2 separate regions of the Homo sapiens genome follow, and region 1 is linked to region 2. The links come from fine-mapping of genetic effects on gene expression. Tissue or cell type: lung. Region 2 holds a variant in brackets; the other region holds the start of a gene. All regions are shown on one strand. Distances are between the middles of the regions.

Region 1 (5,000 bases), 230 kb after region 2:
AATGTTACATTTTTCCAATTTAAGTCCGGGTGGGTCCTCAATAAACAAATGCATTTCTCTGAATAGCAAATTATGTAAGTAGCTTTAGGCAGCATACCAAAGTCTTATGTGAAAAGTATGCTCTCTAACTCTCACAATTGTTAAGGTTTATTTGCAATGAAAGTAATTCAGAATTTTCATCCTCTTTATGTGAACCTCAGATCCTCTTAGCAGCATTTGCCAGCCTCTCTAAAACACAGAGACATACACAGACATCATCCTCTTGTTAAAATGAGACATCAGAAGAAACACTTCTGCTCTAGGACATCATTAGAGCTGGACAACAGCCTGAGGAGAGAAAGAAAAAAGTGTTATACCAACATGCCCTTAGTGAATTTTTTTTCTCTTGCAAATGTTGATGGCTATAAAGACTATATAGATAGTTGAGAACAAACATATTTTGTCTTGCAATATGCCACTTGACTACCTCTCTTCTGAAATTTTATACTACTGATTTCTAGAATACTGATTTTCTAAAATGAAGTTTATCTTACCAATAACATTTTAGTATTATACATTTCAGATGATTTTTCAGTCATCCTGTTTTCATCAGGAATGCATTTTGTGCCAATTAGCTTATTCTTTGTCATTAAATTTAGAGGATAATAAATTGCAGTAGGATAATAACAATAGACAAGAAAGTTTAATTTAAATGTTTTACCAGTAAAATATATTTTATAATTAAAAATGCAATGATTTTTCTGAGAGCAAATCTCCCTTAATTTTGTGCATCAAAAATGGTCAGCTTACTCTTGAAAACCAAGTTCACACAATTTGCAAAACATGTTATTCTCTACACTTAATGACATATGATGTAAGCACAATCAAGAGCCGTTTGGCTTCTTCCCTACTGCTACACCAATCCACTCTTCACATTGTGAGCGTGCACAGGCTGGGGGTGCTAGAGACTCATGGAAAACCAGAGGGCTTTATGAATTTGTAGTACCACCACAATATGCCATTGTGGATACTACTAATTTGTATCTGGTGCAATAATTGGAACCGAGATGCACATTTAATAAGTGGTTTCTATAGCTTTAATATACCTGCGAAATGTGAAAAATAACCATTCTTAATTTTGGAACTGAAATTGTATTTCAGAACATGGCCAAGACATACTAAAAGCATAGACATGAGCCCACTACCTAAAACTCTTTTCTTTATTTTCAGAAAGGAAAGACAGTTAGTAGGAAATAAGGGAAATACTTAAATACCACTTTTGGAAACAAACAGGGATTTAACTGCTTTATCTGTCTTTGAGTTTTTAATGCAGGATATAAAGGACCTTAAAGCGTTCATATTGTCTCCTTAAAACCCTCTACTTCAATTTCACCCTTACAAGCTACTACTCTCCTAGGGAAGAGGAAAAAAAAATTTCCACTGACCCAGCTCGTGATTTACATACAGAGAGCAAATAAATGAATGGAGTGGGGGATGGGGCAGTGAGAAGCAATCTGTTTCTTTTTCAACCGCAGAAAATAAGATTACTTACCAAGAACATTTTTATCCAGGGCAAATGTTTATTCCCTCTATCATTCAGCGCCTCAGTCTCTGCAAGAAATCAATTTCCACTCTACCTTTCCCTCCTATTTCTAAAAAAGAGAGTGAGGCGGATAATTCTTAAGCTTCGGGGTCCGGAGGAAGATAGAGCTAGAGCGGAGGGCAAAAGACTCCCACAGCGCTCTTTATACAGATCCCAGCTCTGAGAGCGAACCCATGGGGAGGGGGCGGGGGATCATCTCTAAGGAGAGTACTCCGAGTAGGGAGGGGGATTCATTCTGCAGCCAAAATATAAATCATCTACAAACAGATTACTAGCCTCTCAGTCACACAGGCAGTTCCCTTGGGAAACCGGTTTCAAAGAGGAAGAAGTTCCTGGAGAGAGAGAGAGAGAGAGAGAGAGGGAGGGAGAGAGAGAGAGAGAGAGAGACTGGGGTTTGGACTTGCAGAGGGAATGGGGCCAAGGAGAGGAATAGGGAGAAGGAATAAAGCTAATCTTACCGATCGATCAGGCGATCGTTTGTTCAGTATTGGGACACGAAAATGGCAAGATAATGCATTCGGCAGCAAAGCCATTTCTGGCACACTCTCTCTCAGTTACTGCAGGAATCAGAGGGGAAGCGGGCGCCTCGAAACCTACCACTTGCTCCCCAGGGACCGTCCTCAGAACCTCCAAAGCTCTAGCTTCTAATGCAAGGCGTTCGGAGCTGAGGGTTCAGGTGGAAGTCAATTGTCTTGAGTCACAGGCAGCAGGAACGCCAAAGAAGTGGGACCTGGGAGGGCTGCTGCCGCCGCTGCTGCATCTAACCACGGTTCCCCGTCCCCTTGCCTAAGCCTCACCGGCACAGCGCCCCCGAAAGCGCCTAGCGACTCGGCCTCCTCCGCATCTTCAGCCCTTCGATCACCGCCCGCACCCCCCACCCCCCACCGCCTCGTGCAAATCGCTGATGATTTGGTCATCGTAATGTGACCGGTCGTAGTGGTTTATTTGGGGAGTGGGGGAATTGGTTGTGTTGGGCTTCCTTACTACGCCTCCCTCAGTTGCTGCAAGTGAAAATGTTCAAGGGAAATACTAGTGAAATGCACTGATGGAATACTATTAATCCTAATGATAATGGTCCCAACGCAGGTAACTCTTAAAGAACTGAGAGTGGGAAGATCAGAGCAGGATTTCCGAAGTGGTGCCCTCTTGAATTCTCATTGGATCCTCCCCAGCAGCCTAAATCATTCTTGCTGCTATATCTATCAGGATGACTACAGCCTTGCTCACTAGTTCTCTCTTTATCTCGTTGTCTTCAACACATCCTTTTACTTCTCTTTGCAGATTTATCTGTATTCCACCTCCTGTTCTCTGGGGTTACACAGCTTCTGCCTTTCCCCACTGTATGGGGATGTGCAGCCTGTAAATTTTCACTTTGCTTAAGGATCACCACGAATCACCCCCCACCATTCCCCACCCCCCCATATAAAGCATTTTCACATTCTGCTTTCTTGCCTTGGGGGTTCGTGGCTCTCTGTGTAACTGGTTTTTACTTGGTTACATGCCACCAGGAACTGCTGATTATTTTAAAGTCCTACTACCCTGCAGCTCACTACTTTACCTTGATTTGGAAGATCATGGAATATCTATTTGAATCCTGGATGTATTTTTCTCACAGTCTTCTTGCTTCCTGAAATTTCCTCTGGTAAGTTATTCTCTTTATCTGTTACTAGAAACTTAACTATTGCTATTTTTAATAAGCTCTGTTTTGTTGAAGTATTTCATTTTTCACATTTTTGTTACTTTCAGAACTGAAAGATCCATATGGCCATATTTATTAATTAGTATGTTAGTGGCAACTGCACTGCTAAGACATAACCCATGTAATGTATTACCCCAATATCCCATGTATTACCCCAATATCTTTTACCTTCTTTATTTTTAAAATATTTGTCCTCATTTATATTATGGGTTACACGGACATTAATCGCCCCCACCCCCATTAACCCTTCTTGGCACACATTCCTGTGCCATTTGAAATGTCACATTTTATAGGTTTATCTAAGAGAGAGCTTAAAAGAGACCTTCTGACAATTGCAAGGTCTGGAAAGTTCGCTAGTCGGATATTCAGAAGGTTGTTCAGGTCAGCATTTGTTCATGATAAGCAATTACATGACTGAAGGAAGACTTTGTTGCAAAGTGTATTTTTATGAATTTAGCAAGACCTTAAGCACTAAAATGCCACTGAATGGTAGGAAGAGGACTGTGAGTTTTGAGGGCACCATTTTTTTTTCTTAAAATATTTCAAATCACACATAAGCACGTTATTTTAGGCATTGTATTTTAATTCAGGCATAGTATTTGTCAGTACATTTCTGATTTTGTGAATTAGCTGGTGAACAGTTAATTGGACACAGAGTACTCATTTCAGAGAGGAGCAATCAGAAGAAACCCCTGATTATCTTGGTTCTGATAAATTGAAATTCAAGAATAGACTTTACATGAAAAATTTAATTGCCTCACTCTTCATACTTGTCTGCCCCCAACCCTTGTGTTTAATAGGCATGTTAATATGGTCAGTGCCTTTTGCTTTTATGAACATTTCTATGGACTTAACTGACAAGATTATCACCTCCTCTTCCGTATAGTTGTGTTGAGAAACATTTTAATCTTTACTTTTACTTCACAATTGACACATAATGAGGAAAGCACGATATTCATTAAATGCCAAACCTGCATGTATCGGTAATTTTTAACACCCACTGAGGGTTTTCTCTGAACATCCGCCCCCCGCCCTCAAATTAAGGACAAGTTCCTGGTCTCTACAACATTTCCTTTTCTTGGGATACATGGAGGTAAGAACCTATTGTTCACGCTTTTCTTTTCCTTTTTTTTTTTTTTAATTTCTGGGAAATAACTATTCTTGTCGTCATTGATGGCTGACGCGACAACCCAAGCAATGTTTTTTTAAATTCAAAAGCCCTTTTAGCTCCCAGACATAAAAGTACTCCAGCTGCAGCGTCGCCCCATCCCCCCGTCTCGGGATTCAAGGGCTTTTCCCCCTTGACTCCCACCGAGAGGGAACGGGGGTTGAGACTGTGGTCCGCACCACTTGGCGCCCCTCACCCGTCACTAGGTCACTAGTTTCTACCTGGTCTCTTTCCCAGTCCGGTCGTCCTGCCTGACAAGCCAGTGCCATCAGAGTCCGTGACTTCATTTGAAGAAAGGAGGGCTTCATATAATTCAATTCAAACATTCTCTTTGGAGGACTGCTGTTGTTGCGCAAGGGTGGAGGGAGGAAAAAAAAAAGAAAAAGAAAAAAAAAACTTTCAGTACAGTCAGATCCAGTAAGGAACAGACAGTCAGTATTTAGGTAAGTGCGTTTTGCTGTATTATACCTGAAGCTCAAGCGTGTGAAAGGGAAATTTACATCTGAGGGGCTCCCGCTGCCAAGAACGTTTTAACTGGAGGGTTATCAACA
Region 2 (5,272 bases):
GAGGCTGGCGGATCATGAGGTCAAGAGATCGAGACAATCCTGGCCAGCATGGTGAAACCCCCTCTCTACTAAAAGTACAAAAATTAGTTGGGTGTGGTGGAGCATGCCTGTAGTCCCAGATACTCAGGAAGCTGAGGCAGGAGAATCGCTTGAACCCGGGAGGCGGAGGTTGCAGTGAGCCGAGATCATGCCACTGAACTCCAGCCTGGTGACAGAGTGAGACTCCGTCTCAAAGAAAAGAAAGAAACAGAGAGAGAGAGAGAGAGAGAGAGAGAGAGAGAGAGAGAGAGAGAGAGAGAGAGAAGAAAGAAAGAAAGAAAGAAAGAAAGAAAGAAAGAAAGAAAGAAAGAAAGAAAAGAAATTCCTTTTTAAAAATGATTCTTTGTAGGAAGATGAATAAATAATAAATTTCAGTTTAGTACCTAATTTTAACCCCTCCATACTAAGCCTACATATTCTTAACCTCCCTCCCGGCTCCTTGATCAGACCATTACTTATAAAAAGTTTTACTTAATTATTTTGTTTCCCCATTCCACTGCAAGTCTAAAATCAAACCCATTATTTGTCCTTAATACCAACGCTCCTTGAGTATTCCTTGCCATAGATAGTGGCTTTTTTTTTTTTTTTTTGCCACAAAAGATTGAAAAATGATTGGAATTTTTGTTAACATCTACTCTCCCTTTCCCCCTGATTCTAGTCAATTAGAAAAGGTTTTACTCATAAGTTTATTTATTCATATATAAAATTTCACTGTATTTTTACAGGCATATATTAACTCTAACTTAAACTATGGCAACCTTCTCATTTGTAATCTATTTCTAGTCTCTTTCCCATGAGATTCATCAGACATACTGATGTTGCATTAGGCTTACTATAGTAAAATCTACATGCTCTAGACTGACTTTACAAGGCACTCTGTAATCTGCTCCAGAATTCATATTTTCTGTCTTCTTTTTACCATAGCCGAATTATATCTTTACTCTCCTGTCTTATAACCTTTGCTAGTGCTATTTATTCCTCTTGGTATATCTTGGTTACTCCTCTACAGCTACAAACCCATGTTTTATTCCAGGTTCAGTTTCATCTAACTCTAGTGAAAGTTTCCTTGACATTGGCCTATAAATCTTTCATGCTTGTGAAATTCTTAATAGAAATGTAGCAAAATGTCCCTCCACATTTGATAACTTTAGAGTACTATATTTTTTATAGTTGAGGACCAGCATTTCCCATTCAACTTTCTGAAATAATTTTAATAGTTACATGCTTGCATATTCATCTCAGCTAGATTTTGACAGAAATTAATTACTGCACCTAATGTAGCGAGCATTTTGAACAGTAGATTTTCCTAGGTAATTAAGTCAGGATATTTTATATGCTTAGAAATACTGATTTAATTATAATTATTTTGATTATAATTATAAAGTTTTATTAGCATCTCTGTTAGTCACTTCTAACAGTTCTTTGTGAGGAGTCTAGTAATAATCACTTATTTATTTTGGTTTTAGAATTATCCGTGATTTGCCACCTTTGTTTTTATGGAAATCACTTGAAATATATAGACCTTTTCTTTTTTGGAGTTGCAAAAATAGTTTGCTTATTTACTTACATTTTGACATTAAAAATGTTTAATATTTGGGGACATAGGTACATATTTGCCTAGTATGTGCATCTATTTCTTCTGATGTTATAAATTCTACCCACATTCTAGGTTTGATAACTATCTGTTTTTTAAACTTTCATAGGGTTTTTAAATTTGTTTTTTACTCTTTACTCCATCTGGAATTTATTTTTATAGGTGATGTAAGAATATAAATTGACACTTTGTTTTTAGAATAGCTTTTTCAAGCATACCAACACCCTTTGTTGAAAAATAAACATTTTTCTTTTGATTTGAGTTGCCACTTGTAACATACATCAAATTGTTTATTATAATTGTGTCTGTAATAAGCAATCAGTTTTCCATGGCAATCTATTTATATTTGAATAAATATTTGAATATTTAGCCTAGGGTAATTGTAAATGTTAATGATTGCTAAGTCTAATACCTTATTTTTCTTTTTTATCTTATTTTTCCACTGCTTAGACTTTGCAGAATATGTTTTTCAAATGCTTTCATTTGATAGCAGGGTCCTTCAAACTAAGCCTTTGCAGCACTCAAAAGTATAGAGCAGATGAAAGCGGAGCTGCTCTGGTTGAAGAAGCCTGGAGCCCTGATTACCAGGATTGCACCGCATCCCGTTTGCAGAGTTTTGGGGCTCCTTGAACTCTTATTTAAACCTGTCATTTCAGATTTACAAGAATATATTTTTGACAAATTCTCTCAAAATCAA[A/C]TTTGGATTTAGTTGCAATTGCTTTAAATCTGCAAATCAATTTGAACATAATTGACATTCAAAATTGTGCCTATTAATTAACTTATTGCCTCCCAGCTCCAAGCTGACCTTTCCTTCTCCTGCTTGTGATACTACAGCGTTTCTCCTTTGTCAATCATCACAATGTTAAGCTTTGTCAGTAAAGACTGATAGAAGGACCCTGGAAAAGATAAGAAGAGAAGTTTTCTTTCCCTTTTGTGTATGCTTTGTTGGCTTGTTCCTGTGTTGTAAAGCACCCACCAATTAACAGAGACTCCAGCAGTGCTCAGCTTGTAGCTTGCCACTTACCCTCTGGGTTCTCTGCCTCATCAGCCTTTGCCACCCAGCTTCCCAGATGGGGTTTCCTGGCTTGCAGATCTCCTTTTGCCTGTTTTGATCAAGTGACACCCAACAGACGGTTACCTCCTTGCCAGTCCTGGTCTACAGTTCCCCGTTGACCAAACTCAACTATTTACAATGAGCTGATTGAGGATTTCTGACTGCCAGCTTTGACCTGCCAGCATCCTCATAAGGGCTTTATGTTTGCTGGCCAGTCTCCAGCTCCTTGTCCATTACCTTTAGTCAGATAGCATTCCAGTGGGTGATGTTTTGATTGGCAGACCCAACCACAGTTACCCATGCTCCAGCCTCAGTCGGGTGTCACACTAATGAGGAGCTTCTAAATTCAGTCCCTGTCCACAGCTCCCTGCTCACCGGGCTCAGTCCAACACTGTGTATACATTCAGACCACCAAGGCAATCCTGCAACTTCTCTGCCATTTAGTAGGCTGCAGTAACACACCCTCCGATGATGGCTGAATTACAGTTTTGAGGAAGAGAGCTTCCTTCCAACTGTTTTCCTTTCTTAAGCCTTGGAGAAATTTTTAGAATCCTTTTTTTTCTTTTATTCAGTCTTAATAACCAATCTCAGGAATATGGTTAATATTTCTTTATATAAAACTTCCTGTTTTCAAATTACTGTGTACTTTTTGTCTCCTAACTAAATACTGATTTATACAAAAAGATATTTTCTCCTTCTCGCCTTCTTCTTCTCTTCCTCCACTTCCTCCTTTTCCTTTCCCTCCCTCTTTTTCCTTTCCTAGAGGATACATCTTTCCAGTTATTCAAACCCTTATTCAAAGTATTTTTTGCTTTGAAAAATTTTTTGTTTATTTTTCTTTAGTTAAGTAGCATCCTTTTGTTTTAGAAATACAATGCTATATTTTAGTCCTATGGTAGATGAGGTAATTTCCATTATATTATTCCTTGGAATTTAGTGATGCATATGAAGCTAATGCTTTGCTTTTTAATATGTTTAACTTACATCTTGACATATAACTAAACTGTTTTATAATCAAATGGTTTCATTTTTGAGGTATTCTAGTTTAACAATTGTATTATCTGTAAATAATGATTGTTTTGCCTCTTTTTTTTTCACCATCCCTGTATCTGAGAAATAGTCCCTGTCTTTATGAGATAAATCTTTTTAATCTATATAAATGAGTAAATAGTAGAGGGAGGGAAACTTCTTTTAATGAAAATGGGAGACATCATTTCCCCCCAAAACACTCCTACCACCCTGCCTCTCAAAGAGAACGATGCTATTATAAGATCTTGATTAAACTACCGTGCTTAAAATCAAAATTTATTTATCCATAGGTATGTTTGTGCAGCCTGCTGAAGGAAGCCATAAGGAATCCCTACTTCCATTTTTAATTAAGGTACTCACCAGAAATTTACTACCTATCAAGTTTTTCCTAGCTATTTTCCCAGTTGAGCTCACCAGTGTTAACCACGATAGCAATAGTTCACATTTACAGAGTGCTTATGTGGGACTCTAAGCTTAATTCCATTCTACGTGGTATTTTATATATGTGTATTCATTGAGTTCCCACAACATCCTTTTTAAATCATACTATCATCTTCTCATTTTATAGATGAAGAAACAGAGAACCAAGAATATAATTTTCCAAAGTGACACAGTGACAAATCTAAGATTTGAAGTCTGGTGGTTTCTAAAATCTATATTTAATGCTGCTACACATGGCAGCAGAGATCACATTAAACAATGTTAAGCATATAAATATTCCACAAATTAAGAAACTTTGTTCCATTATTGAGTTTGTGAAAAATTGAAATAGCCAAATTTTGAGGGGAAAAAAAGGGAGAGACCCAAGGAAAATAAATGCAACTTATCTTCCTCCTCCTAAAACTGCCCGTCTCTCATATTTTTATTCTGTTCAATATCAGCAAGAGAGGATCTCACTCAAGTGTATAGTGGGGATGGTAACACCACAAACAGATGAAACTTGACCTTTCAAAACTGTTCCAAAGTCTATAACACATATTTTATATATTTATAACAACAAAATTTAGCACAAAGTACAATATTTTGAGTGGCAGTAGAAAACCAATTGTCTCTGAAGTTGGTTGGAGGTTGGTGATACAAAAAATGGTATACATGTTTAAAAAAGAAAAGAGAAAAGAAAAATCTTGGTTTAAGTTTCCTTAGTGTCCTAGTGAACCTGATTCTCTGAAAAAAGTGAAAAACATCTTCCATAAGAAAAATAATGTGATATTGTATTTTCTACATGTATTGGGAAGATCCAGTTGTATATACTGTCTCATATTTTGGAGTAATATTTAAGTATATGTCATAATTTGTAACGTAGAAATTTGCAACATACATAGTAAGCCACAGTCATACTTCTCTGACTTACTTCTTTCCCTTCGTATCTATCACATTTCCCATTTAAGAAATATGTTCTAAACAATATTAATGTTGAATTGACAATGGATTATTTCCAGAGAGGCTTAGGAATGAAATTTATGCATTATTATGATTTTTAATATATCTCATTCATAGAATAAATATGGAAGATGTAGTAATCAAAAACCTTATTAATCAGTTTACTCTTATTTCTT

Direction of the effects. Alleles are on the strand shown, and positions count from the first base shown. SD is a standard deviation of normalised expression in the study named.
For the expression in lung of the gene that starts at base 2,808 in region 1, A is the high allele of the variant in region 2 and C is the other (small effect, 0.36 SD a copy in GTEx).

The links. PIP is the estimated chance that this variant, and not a neighbour inherited with it, causes the effect.
Region 1: it holds the start of BRINP3, and the variant in region 2 is the best candidate, but not a certain one, in a credible set for the expression of BRINP3 in lung (GTEx, PIP 0.57).

What each region holds. Positions count from the first base shown.
Region 1 is chr1:190,475,672-190,480,671 of GRCh38, reverse strand. It overlaps BRINP3 (BMP/retinoic acid inducible neural specific 3), which reads left to right and starts at 2,808. Exons shown (of 8, transcript NM_199051.3): 1 at 2,808-3,224. BRINP3-DT (BRINP3 divergent transcript) reads right to left here and starts at 2,412. Exons shown (of 3, transcript NR_110716.1): 1 at 2,180-2,412; 2 at 1,532-1,590; 3 at 1-327.
Region 2 is chr1:190,701,709-190,706,980 of GRCh38, reverse strand. The region is part of intron 1 of LINC01720 (long intergenic non-protein coding RNA 1720); the gene reads right to left. Among named protein-coding and RNA genes, the nearest start is that of LINC01720, 79 kb to the right of the region's middle. The variant A/C (reference allele first, on the strand shown) is at 2,331.